3 linked regions of the Homo sapiens genome follow. The protein of the gene in region 3 purifies or fractionates together with the protein of the main gene of each other region. This does not show direct contact. Each region holds a gene or a part of one and is shown on either strand. Other genes may lie near its edges. The genes, in order: WIPF2, WIPF3 and WAC.

Region 1 (3,652 bases), on a different chromosome or scaffold from region 3:
GGCTGGTCTCGAACTCCTGGGCTTAAATGATCTGCTGGCCTCAACCTTCCAAAGTGCTGGGATTAAGGCGTGAGCCATCATGCCCAGACTCCATGACATAACTCCTTAATCAATGTTCTATACCTGTAGAAACTGACTTTAAAATAAAAGCTAAGGGCTGGGCGCAGTGGCTCACTTGAGGTCAGGAGTTTGAGACCAGCCTGGCCAACACGGCGAAAACCCGTTTCTACTAAAAATACAAAAATTAGCCAGATATGGTGGCACATGCCTGTAATTCCAGCTAGTCAGGAGGCTGAGACACAACAATCACTTGAACCTGGGAGGAAGAGGTTGCAATGAGCAGAGATTGCACCACTGCACTCCAGCCTGGGCGAAAGAGCAAGGCTCTGTCTCAAAACACAAACAAACAAATAAATAAATAAAGGCCAAGAAGCTGTTTGTGGAGGGTATGTCTCAAAGTCTAATGATACAACGATATGGGAGCCAAAATTCCCATGTCCAATAAGGCCCCAGAGAGCTGTCACGGTCTCCCTCACTCTAAAATTTCAGTTATGCTAATTATAACGAGATTACACAACCTCTTCTTTTTCCAGGGTTCCTAAATTCCCTCCTCACCCAGCTTAGGCTCCATTATTGCAATCACTCCCTCACATACACCCTTCCCTTCCTGCCCCACTCTCCCTTAGAGTCGCACATGCCTAAAACATGCTAACGCTGGTTAAACACAGCTCTACTCTTTTTCTGTACCTGCAAATCACAACTGAACACATGAGACTAATTAATCTCACATGAAATGTATGGCCCATAATCTCAAGTGGGCCCTTCGCGTGGTTGCCTATCTGAGCACACTTCCCTAGTCCACCCACACTCCCACGCTCCAGATGACCATTTCATGCCTCTTCTCTCTCCTCAACTCTCCTTCTCCTTCCCTCGCCTCAATCACAGCTGATGCTCTTGCTTTCCATTTCACTGAGAAAACAGAAGCAAATTAGAATAAACTTTCCACATGCTTCTACCACTACACCCACCTACCCACTTGCTTCTAAGCCTATATGCTCTGCCTCCCCTCTTGTTACTATGGAAGAACTATGTTCCTATCTAAGGCCAACCCTTTTTATCTATCGATCACATTCTCTTTTCTCTGGCCTCCTCCAGGTCATTATTCAGGCAATCTGTTCCCTCTCTTCTGATTCAATTTTTTCCCTCTCTCCTAAGTTTCATGCTACTCATTCCATCAGCATACAAATAGGTCTCCCATCTTGGGATGGGAAAAAAACAACTCTCAACCCCACATCTTCGTCCAACAATCACTTCACTTATCTTCACCCCTCTCTCCTGGACTTTACAGCGAACTCTTTAAGAGATTTCTATATTGCTATCTCCAATTTCTCTCCTCCTATTCCTGCATTCTTGAACCCACTCCAATTAAGCTTTCACTTTCACCCTCCACCACTCCACTGAAACTACTCAAAAGGGTCCCATGATACTAAGACCAATGCCAGTTCTTGGTCTTTAACTTACCTGACCCATCTGCAGCACTGGGCACAGCTGACCACTTACTCTACCTTGGAGTTTTTCCATCACATTCTTGGTTTTTCTCCTTCCATCCTCACTAGAAGCTTTTCTGTTTCCTCTGCTGGGTATTCTTCATCTCTTTTGCCTCTAATGTAGGAGGGCGAGGGCTCAGCCCTCATTTTTTTTTTTTTTTTTTTTGAGATGGACTGTCACTCTGTCGCCCAGGCTGGAGTGCAGTGGCGTGATCTCGGCTCACTGCAACCTCTGCCTCCTGAGTTCAAGCGATTCTCCTGCCTCAGCCTCCTAGGCCTCTTCTTATCTATATTCACTCCTTAGGTGACTTCATCCAGCATGTGGTTTTCAACACCATTCAAATGTATCTCTCTAGCCGAAACCTCTCCCCTCAACTTTGGAGTCTGATAGCCAATTACCAATTCATTGTCTCTTCTTGATTACCTAACAGGCATCTCAAACTTGTCTCAAACTGAACACCTATCTTCCCACAAATTCACAGTAGTCCTAACCATCTGGCCGTTTACTGCAACAGCCCAGTAACTGGTCTCCTTTTGTCACCTTTGTCCTCCTGCGGTCTGTTCTCAACATAGGAGTTAATGATCTTTTTAAAAGGTGAATCAAATCATACTACTTCTCTGTTTAAAACCCTCCAGTGGCTTCCCATCTCACACAGTTAAATCCAAGGTCTTTGCAAAATCCTGCAGTGCGCTCTCCCCTGCAGCTCCAGCTTTCCAACCTCCAAGTCCTACCACTCTTCCCTCCCCTCACTCTTTGTAGTCTTGCCACAATGGCCCCCTTGCTGTCCCCAAAATGTTTCAAGAATACTTCTGCCTTATGGCCTCTGCATTTGTTGTTCCCACTGCCTGCAACAGCTGTTCTCCTAGATAACTACTAAGCTTACTCGTCACTTTCTTAAGGTCTTTGTCAAATTTTCACCGTATCAGTAAGGACTGTCCTGACTCTCTCCCCACTCCTCCAATTAAAGATATCATCATCCCGACCTCCGCCCCAGTATATCTTATTCCTCTCCTCTGCTTTGTAATTCTCTAAAGCATACTGCATACTATGTATTTATATATTTTACTAGTTTGACTGTCAAATTTTTTTGTCTTTTCTATTTATTGCTATTTCCCTACCAACAGACCTGACACATAAAAAGGTACTCAATAAACCCACTGAGTGAATAAACGAATTACTGTCTTCAAGGAGTGCTCTGGGGAAAGATAAAATCAACTCACAGCATGATAGGGAAAAAGGTGCTTCCAAGCACTTACCTGCTCCCCGACTGGGAGGGTCTCGGGCTGGGGGAGGTGGCCTATTACTCAGTAAAGATGGGGAGGCCGAGGTGGGTGGAGGAGGTGCTAGGCCTCTGACAGGCCCTGGTGTCTTCCTATGCAAAGAATTGTGTCTCTGTGGCAGCTCAGGGGCTGACTCATTAGTGGGGCTAGAGGGTCCATTGGGGACCCCAGGAGGCTGGCGGTAAGGCGGAGGAGGAGGAGCCAGAGACTGGCCACTTGGTCCTGTTCTGATATTCACAGGGGAAGGAGGTGGTTTGACTGGGGGTGGAGCAGGAGGTCCCTCTCGACCAGGGTGAAGCCTTTGTCCAGGCGTCGGTGGCAAGGGTTTCTCTCTGTTGTAGGCGGGGGCTTTGCTGCTGTGCATAGGCAGAGGTGTGGGGGGTGCGTTGGCACGCCGCCCTGGGGGTGGTGGGGGAGGGGCAGAGGAGCTGTGCTTCATGCCCGTACTGCTGGTGGTATTAGGCCGAGAGAGGTCCGGTAAAGAGGGTCTCTGCATCCGGGGCAGTTCTGGGAGTGAGGCCCGGCTGCTGTCTGTATCATCCTGAGGACGCCCGCTGGCGGCAGATACTGGAGGCCTTGGGGCAGCAGCTCGAGAACTGGGGATTTGCAGGGCTGGCTTACCAGCTAGGTTCTCTACAAATACATAGACAACACAGGGTCAACAGAGCTGGACAGATATTGGTCAGTATCCCTACTTCACTCGGCTCCTTAGTGCAACCTGCATGGCAGCAGGGAAAGGAATTGAATAATTCTGGGTTTTTTGTTTTTCTTTTTTTTTTTTTTTTTTTTTTTTTTTGAGACGAAGTTTCGCTGTTGTTGCCTAG
Region 2 (3,652 bases), on a different chromosome or scaffold from region 3:
CAGCCTGGCCAACATGGGGAAACCCTGTCTCTACTAAAAATACAAAAATTAGCCAGGTGTGGTGGTGCACGCCTGTAACCTCAGCTACTCGGAAGGTTGAGGCACAAGAATCACTTGAACCTGGGAGGCGAAGGTTGCAGTGAGCTGAGATCCTGCCACTGCACTCCAGCCTAGATGGCAGAGTGAAACTGTGTCTCAAAAAAAAAAAAAAAAAAAAAAAAAAAGCTTTGTCTTTTTCATCACATCATAAATAGATGAAAATAACAAATATCAGAAGGGGCTTATCAGCCCAAATGCTGGCCCTCATGGTGACCAGTCAATTGAAAAGAGAATGATTAAAACCTTACCTCTTGTAATCAAGAGGCTTAAAAATATCTTTGCTCTTTGCACCAGGAATTCCCTTTAAGACACCAATACTTTTAGAAAAATATCAAAAACGTGGATTAAAATTTCTACAAAAGTATTTCTTAAAATATTACTCATAATAACAAAAAATGGAATCAACTTAGATATCTAACATGAGGAATATGGAATATATTGTCATGCTTATAAAGACATTTTAACAATTTGATAAAATTGTTTTTAACATAATGTTAAATAAAACACAGAACACAAAACTGTATGTGAAAAATGGTATTAACCATGTAAACGTGTACATATATTCAGAAAAAAGAATTGAAGAAACCTATCCAAATGGCAGTTTTCATCTCTGGGTGATGTTATTATGGGTGATTGAATTACTTAATTTACTCAGAGACAGCAGCATCTGGCTCTGTCATCCAATCTGGAGTACAATGGCACAATCATAGCTCCCCACAGCCTTGAACACCTAGATTCAAACGATCCTCCTGCCTTAGCCTCCCAAGTAGCTGGGACTATAGTTGTCTGCCACCATGCCCAGCCAATTTTTTATTTTTATTTTCTGTAGAGATGGGGTTTCGCTGTGTTACCCAGGCTGGCCTAGAACTCCTGACCTCAAGCCATCTTCATGCATGGGCCTCCCAAAGCAGTGGGATTACCGGTGTGAGCCATCCGTACCTGGCCAGTTTGAATTTCCGTCTATTAGCTCTGCAACAAGCTTGCGTTATTTTTAAGTCAAGAAAATACTTTTAAGAAGCTTTCTGCATCAAAAGATTTTCTAAAAGACAAAGGAATATGTGTGTTGGGGGTGTGCATGTGGATGTGTGTGTTATGAGTGTGCATATGTTTGAGTGTGTCTGCCTGTGTGGATGTGGGTGTATCTGTGGACGTGTGGAGGTACTTTCCATTCACAGGGGCACTAAAACTGAATGAAGCCTCCTACTAGCGGGATCAAGGAAATCAGCCATGGGGCATGAACGCTCAATTCAAATAACCTGTGCTGCATATGTGAAGGAATTATTTTTAATATTTGGCTCAAAATACAGGCCCTCAGTTTTCTTGAGTCAGCCGGAGAACCTGCGAAAACTAAGGCAGAGTGGGAATCCAGTTTACTGAGGGCCGGCGAAGATTCTGGCTGGGATCCAGATAGGAAAACGCGGGCAAATATAAAAGGAGGCCTGGTTCTGGAAACAAGCCACACTCACGCCCCCTCCACCTCAGGGAGGAGATTGGGAGTTGGAAGGTTGGTAGTAAGAATAAATAATCCCTCTCAAGCTCACTGTTGCCCTGTTCCAAGCACCTCAAACCTAAGAACTCACTTAATCCTTAACAACAAACCCAGGAGGTAACAACTATTGCCATCTATCCCCATTTTACAGATGAATAGAAGGGAGAACAGAGAGGCCAAGTGGTCGCCCAGGGCCACAGAGCTAGTAAGGGCAGGGGATCAAGGCCGGGATCCCTTGCTTACATGCAGCATGATTTTGGGCAAGTCTCTCTGCCTCCCTCACCCCTGGTGTCCATCTCTGAAACGAATACCTCCAACAATAAAGTCCTGTGCAACGACGAGATTTTATCGCACTCCACCAGGGGCACTGGGCCAGGCAGCGCTCCTTACCTGGTCGGCCATGCCTCTTCTTCTGCAGGAACGGCTGGGAGCCCGGAGGGGCAGGCGGGGCGGGCAAGGCCTGCGCACCGGCCTTCTGCGGTGGGGCCTGGAAGCTGGGGGATTTAGGGGGTAGCGGGGGTGGAGTTTCACTGCTGCTATTAACTCCTGGCAAAGGGGGCGCGGGCAAAGAAGCCCTCGGGGAGCAAGAAGCATAAGGGGGGAGCGGGGGCGGCGGGGCGGGAGGCTCCTGCGCATCTTGCGCAGGGCTGGCGGGCTCCGCTTTGAGCCCCGGATACCCACAAGGTGGGAGCAGAGGGAGCGGGGGCGGGATGGGCGGGAGGTGCAAGGGAGCCAGCTGAGGCTTCACTGCCTTGTCACTAAGAACCGAGGCCGGGGGCAGCGGGGGTGGCGTTGGGGGAGGTGGCGGAGGTGGAGGTGGTGGCGCACAGGGGACGGGGGGTGCAACCACCGGGAGGTTCCCTTTGGTCAGTGGGCCGGGTGGGGACACAAGCGGAGTTTTGATGGGGGAGGAAGAGGGAAGGGGCGGGGGTAAGGGTGGAGGCGGAGGGGGTGGGGTGGGAGGGGGCGGGGCAGGCACGTTGGGGCGAGGCGGGGCTGTCCTGGCAGCGCCATGCGCCTCGGAGGTATTGCCTAGCCTGGGAGAGGCAGGCGGGATAAGCGGGCCGCTGATGGTTTTGTTGGGAAGCCTGGGAGAGGGCGCGCGGGAGCCAGGGCCCTGCCCTGTCTTGCCACCTGGAAGTGAAAGAGATTCTGGGTTAGCTCGGCAATAAAGAAGGAGAAAGCCCCCGCAGGTAGGCGGCACTCAGGACACTCAAGCCTGCCCGCAGTGAGCTGCACTGTAGACCGCTTTTTCTGCACGTGTCCACTGAGAGGCCTCAGGTGCCACAGCTGTCACCCAGAAGGACCAACTGGACCAGATCCAAAGTCCTTGCCAGCATTAATGACAAGCCCAGGTCAGGCCTCCAGCCCTCCTATCCATGCCACCTGTGCTGTCATCTGCCTTGGGCCTCTAGTATCCCAGCCAGGGCCAGGACTGCCCGGGTGTCTTTTGCCCTTCCTAATCAAGGCCACACTCACGAACTCATTCACTGACACCCGCTAGGTCCATCAGCCCTTATGCTCTAATTTGGACCCTCAGGTGTACCAACCAGCACTCCTGGCTAGGGAGGTTTTCTTCACTCCCAGCATTTTGTGAAATTTGACTTTCTTTGTTTCTGTGTTGAGAGCAGAAAATTCATGATTCCCTGAATACATAAGGTAAGACTGGAGGGAGACATTTGCCCTTGACAACCCAGGTCCAATGACCTTGAACCTCACAGTTCTATGACCTCTGGAAGTTCAAAACCTCCTTTCCCAAAGACTTATGCTAATTCCCAAGGGTTTTGGCTTTCTCATCCTATAGATCCTTCATTGCATCTGCCCCAGCTTGAAATTCAATTCCTCTTTTAAATTCAACAACAACCATTGGCTCTTGATAAGCATTTGCGTTTGGTTTTCATGGAAGACTCAGGTGGAGCACGTCCCCAGGAGGGGCCTCTATACTCCGCACAGCCTTGCACCTTTTTGCCAGTTCTCACCCTTTTTTCGCTCTGCCTCTCTCTAATAAGAAAAAGTTCCTCTCGTTGTTTACTGCCTCGAAGTTCTGCAATTACTGCTTAGAGA
Region 3 (3,652 bases):
TGGGCAATATAGCAAGACCCCATCTCTACAAAAATAATTTGAAAATTTGCTGGGGGAGGCCGAGGCAGGCAGATCACTTGAGGCCTAGAGTTTGAAACAAGCCTGGCCAACAGGCAAAACCCGGTCTCTACTAAAAGTACAAAAATTATCTGGGTGTGCTGGCACAGACCTATAATCCCAGCTACTCGGGCGGCTGAGGCATGAGAATCACTTGACCTGGGAAGTGGAGGTGCAGTTGAGCCAAGATCACGGCACTGCACTCCAGCCTGGGCAAGAGAGTGAAACTCTGAAAAACTTTCTTGGGCATGGTGATGTGCACTACTCAGGAGGCTGAGGTAGGAGAATCACCTGCGCCTGGGAATTCAAGGTTGGAGTGAGCCAAGATCACGTCACTCTGCACTTGAGAGTAGGCAACCAGACTAAGACCCTGTCTGGAAAAAAAAAATCCTTTAAGCAGGTAGCTGTTCGTTTTTTGTGTTCCAAAAACTTCTTCAAGTTGTTTTTAAAATAATTGAACATTTGAGCTTTTATGTAGTGCTTATAAAATGTTCTTTATAAGACTTGACTAGAATTGATAGGTAATATTCAGAAGTTAAGCAGGACATTCCAGATTTGTTAGGGAGAATTATTAATCATATCCCCTCACCCCACCAAAAGAAAAACAGCAGTGAGGTGTGACTTAATCACAAAGGACTCCATCTGCCTTTGTGCCTCAATTTAGAGCTTATATTTTAAACTGCTTTTCTCTATGTGGCTTCTGAATATAATACATATCCTGATTGGCAATCATGGACTTCAGTCTACCTCTGTAGAGTAACATCTCTTTGAAAAACTCTCATGTTGAACTTTATATGGGCCATAACTCATTTTCTGATAGCCCAATCACATATTTCTCCATATCATTAAAATCTAAGCATCCATATGTGTATGATGTGGTAGCATACATAATTTACTTTTATTGATATAAAAGTAACAGTAAATCAGAAGAGATAATAATGTATTGGAAAGAAAACTGAGCTGTAAAGGAGAACTAGTTACTTTTTTTTTTTTTGAGACGGAGTCTCGTTCTGTCGCCCAGGCGGGAGTGCTGTGGCGCGATCTCCGCTCACTGCAAGCTCCGCCTTCCGGGTTCACGCCATTCTCCTGCCTCAGCCTCCCGAGTAGCTGGGACTACAGGCGCCCGCCACTGCGCCCGGCTAATTTTTTGTATTTTTAGTAGAGACGGGGTTTCACCGTGGTCTCGATCTCCTGACCTCGTGATCCGCCCGCCTCGGCCTCCCAAAGTGCTGGGATTACAGGCGTGAGCCACCGCGCCCAGCCCTAGTTTGATAGGGAAGTAATTTTATGACCTTGGGCCATTTTCACAAAGAAATGAGATCTAAGTTTCAGAACTTGACTGCCACATTTTACATGTTTCAAGACGATTACCTAGATTTTGGGGGGAGAGATGTGGATTAGATTTGGAGACCATCTCACCAGATTTTGACATTTCAGGTTAGTACTCCAGTAGTTAAGCAAGGACCAGTGTCACAGTCAGCCACACAGCAGCCTGTAACTGCTGACAAGCAGCAAGGTCATGAACCTGTCTCTCCTCGAAGTCTTCAGCGCTCAAGGTAGGTTGATATTGTATATTGAGACCACATTGTTTTATTTAATGATGGTACACTGCATTGTTTGAATATTATATCTGTAAAATAGAACTTAACCTTTAAACTCCATGAATACCCTAAAGTAGGCTTACATGTTGTAAAATTTACAAAGACAAACCTGTATACAAGAGGTAGGTTATTGTCTCTAGTAGTGAAGCCCGGGTTATTTTGAAGAAAGTGGCTCTTTAAAATTTTACACAGTGGAATATGACGGGGCTAAAGATTTGTGATACTTGTACCAGAAAGGCACACGATTTTACAATATTTGTTGGAATTACCTTACTTTTTAACCTCCTCATAGCAGTTTTGGTTTGAGTATATTGATGAAAGCCAAAGTCTGGTATCTAAAACTTGGGCCAATGTTTCCCAACTGGTATATGTCAGGCTTTCCCAATAGCTTAACTGTGACCCTATACGGATGGCTTTTTAGATAGTTCTATACTGCTGTATTGTGTTAGCACTTTTCTTTGTTCATTAACAACACAACTTTAAATGACATTTGTTGAATGAATGGTTTTCATTTGATTGATTTTCCTGTTTTTTATTTCATGCTATGAGGTAGCAAAATAATTCAACTGTTGTTTTTATTGTTGTTTTCTAAACAAGCATTTCAGAACTTACACCTCCAAATGAGAGTTGTTCCCTTCAAAATAATGACCTTGGGAAGCTGTCTACTTACTCCAGCAATGTTGCCATTGCTCTGAACATTTTTGGGAAATTCTTCTTTTAAATTGTTTTTAGAGGCTGCAGTATTATTTTAAATATCCTCAGTGATGAAAACTCTTCATCCTTTGGGAGATTTAGTTTTTGGAAATAACTGAAATTCATTCAGAGCCAAGTCTGGTGAAGCAGGTAGGAGATCAACTTGGGTGATTAAATTTTTTGGTTCTCACCACCATATCCCCAACCCTGGCCCAAACCATTCAGTTTTAAAAGAAGATAAAGAATCTCAGAGTGTTATTTTTTTGGTTTTGTTTTGCCACTGTGCTTGTTCAGTGCTATCCAATAAAATGTCTGTATTTTGCTTCACATTATTTCACCCTCTGATTCAGCAGTTCTGACGTTGAACAAAGGCAATATATATTTTCCCCTTATCTAGATGTGTATGAGCAGTCTTCAGATGTGCATCTACAGCTGTTAAAATGTGACTTTTTTTAGTTATATTATTAGTGTTTGTGGTACACAAAGTTAACAGGTTCTGCTCTCAGATTTGGAGAGTAGTTTACATTTGACTCTGACAGTAGTGTTAAAAGGGTTTTTTCCCCCTAAAGTGTTTTGAGGAATCATATACTTTGGATTATTAATTCTCTTTATTTGACATTAAAATAACAAATTTTTCTTAGGAATTTGGATATCTTTAAGTTAATAAAAGGTATTAACATGCAGTTTCTAGGATAAGGATACCCAGAAACTACTTTTAAACATACTACACATTCAATTCTGTTTTCTAGTAGCCAGAGAAGTCCATCACCTGGTCCCAATCATACTTCTAATAGTAGTAATGCATCAAATGCAACAGTTGTACCACAGAATTCTTCTGCCCGATCCACGTGTTCATTAACGCCTGCACTAGCAGCACACTTCAGTGAAAATCTCATAAAACACGTTCAAGGATGGCCTGCAGATCATGCAGAGAAGCAGGTATGTTATGTACAGCCTAGATTTTACCTTTGGATGATTAGCAAAACAGAATTTAATCAACTTCTAGAGAATCTAATGTGACCACTGAATTCAAGCAATATTTAAAATAATGAATCTCTAACTTTGTAGTCATTTAAAAAATATTTGATATATAAGATAACTTTTCTGGTTTTACAAAATATTTTAACATAATTATAGGCACTGTTGTCAAGTACTCAGCAGTTAGCTCAGTGCTTAATGCCTTATATTTATTTTCTCTACTTCTTAAAACAGCTAAGCAGTGTAGATAGAGTTGAAGTCCTTAAGACCAAATAGTGCATAAGACCTTGATCCCAGGGTCACCCAGTTAACAGTGATGTGGC

The links.
Region 1: the proteins of WAC (region 3) and WIPF2 purify together in Homo sapiens (affinity purification with mass spectrometry, with the first as the bait; one large-scale study listed by BioGRID). This does not show direct contact.
Region 2: the proteins of WAC (region 3) and WIPF3 purify together in Homo sapiens (affinity purification with mass spectrometry, with the first as the bait; one large-scale study listed by BioGRID). This does not show direct contact.

Annotation. Positions count from the first base shown.
Region 1 is NC_000017.11:40,264,299-40,267,950, reverse strand, and holds part of WIPF2 (WAS/WASL-interacting protein family member 2), read right to left. Parts: intron 3,462-3,652; coding exon 2,805-3,461; intron 1-2,804. UniProt on the Homo sapiens protein: Plays an active role in the formation of cell surface protrusions downstream of activated PDGFB receptors. Plays an important role in actin-microspike formation through cooperation with WASL.
Region 2 is NC_000007.14:29,882,920-29,886,571, reverse strand, and holds part of WIPF3 (WAS/WASL-interacting protein family member 3), read right to left. Parts: intron 2,723-3,652; coding exon 1,979-2,722; intron 1-1,978. UniProt on the Homo sapiens protein: May be a regulator of cytoskeletal organization. May have a role in spermatogenesis.
Region 3 is NC_000010.11:28,613,073-28,616,724, forward strand, and holds part of WAC (WW domain-containing adapter protein with coiled-coil), read left to right. Parts: intron 1-1,494; coding exon 1,495-1,613; intron 1,614-3,100; coding exon 3,101-3,290; intron 3,291-3,652.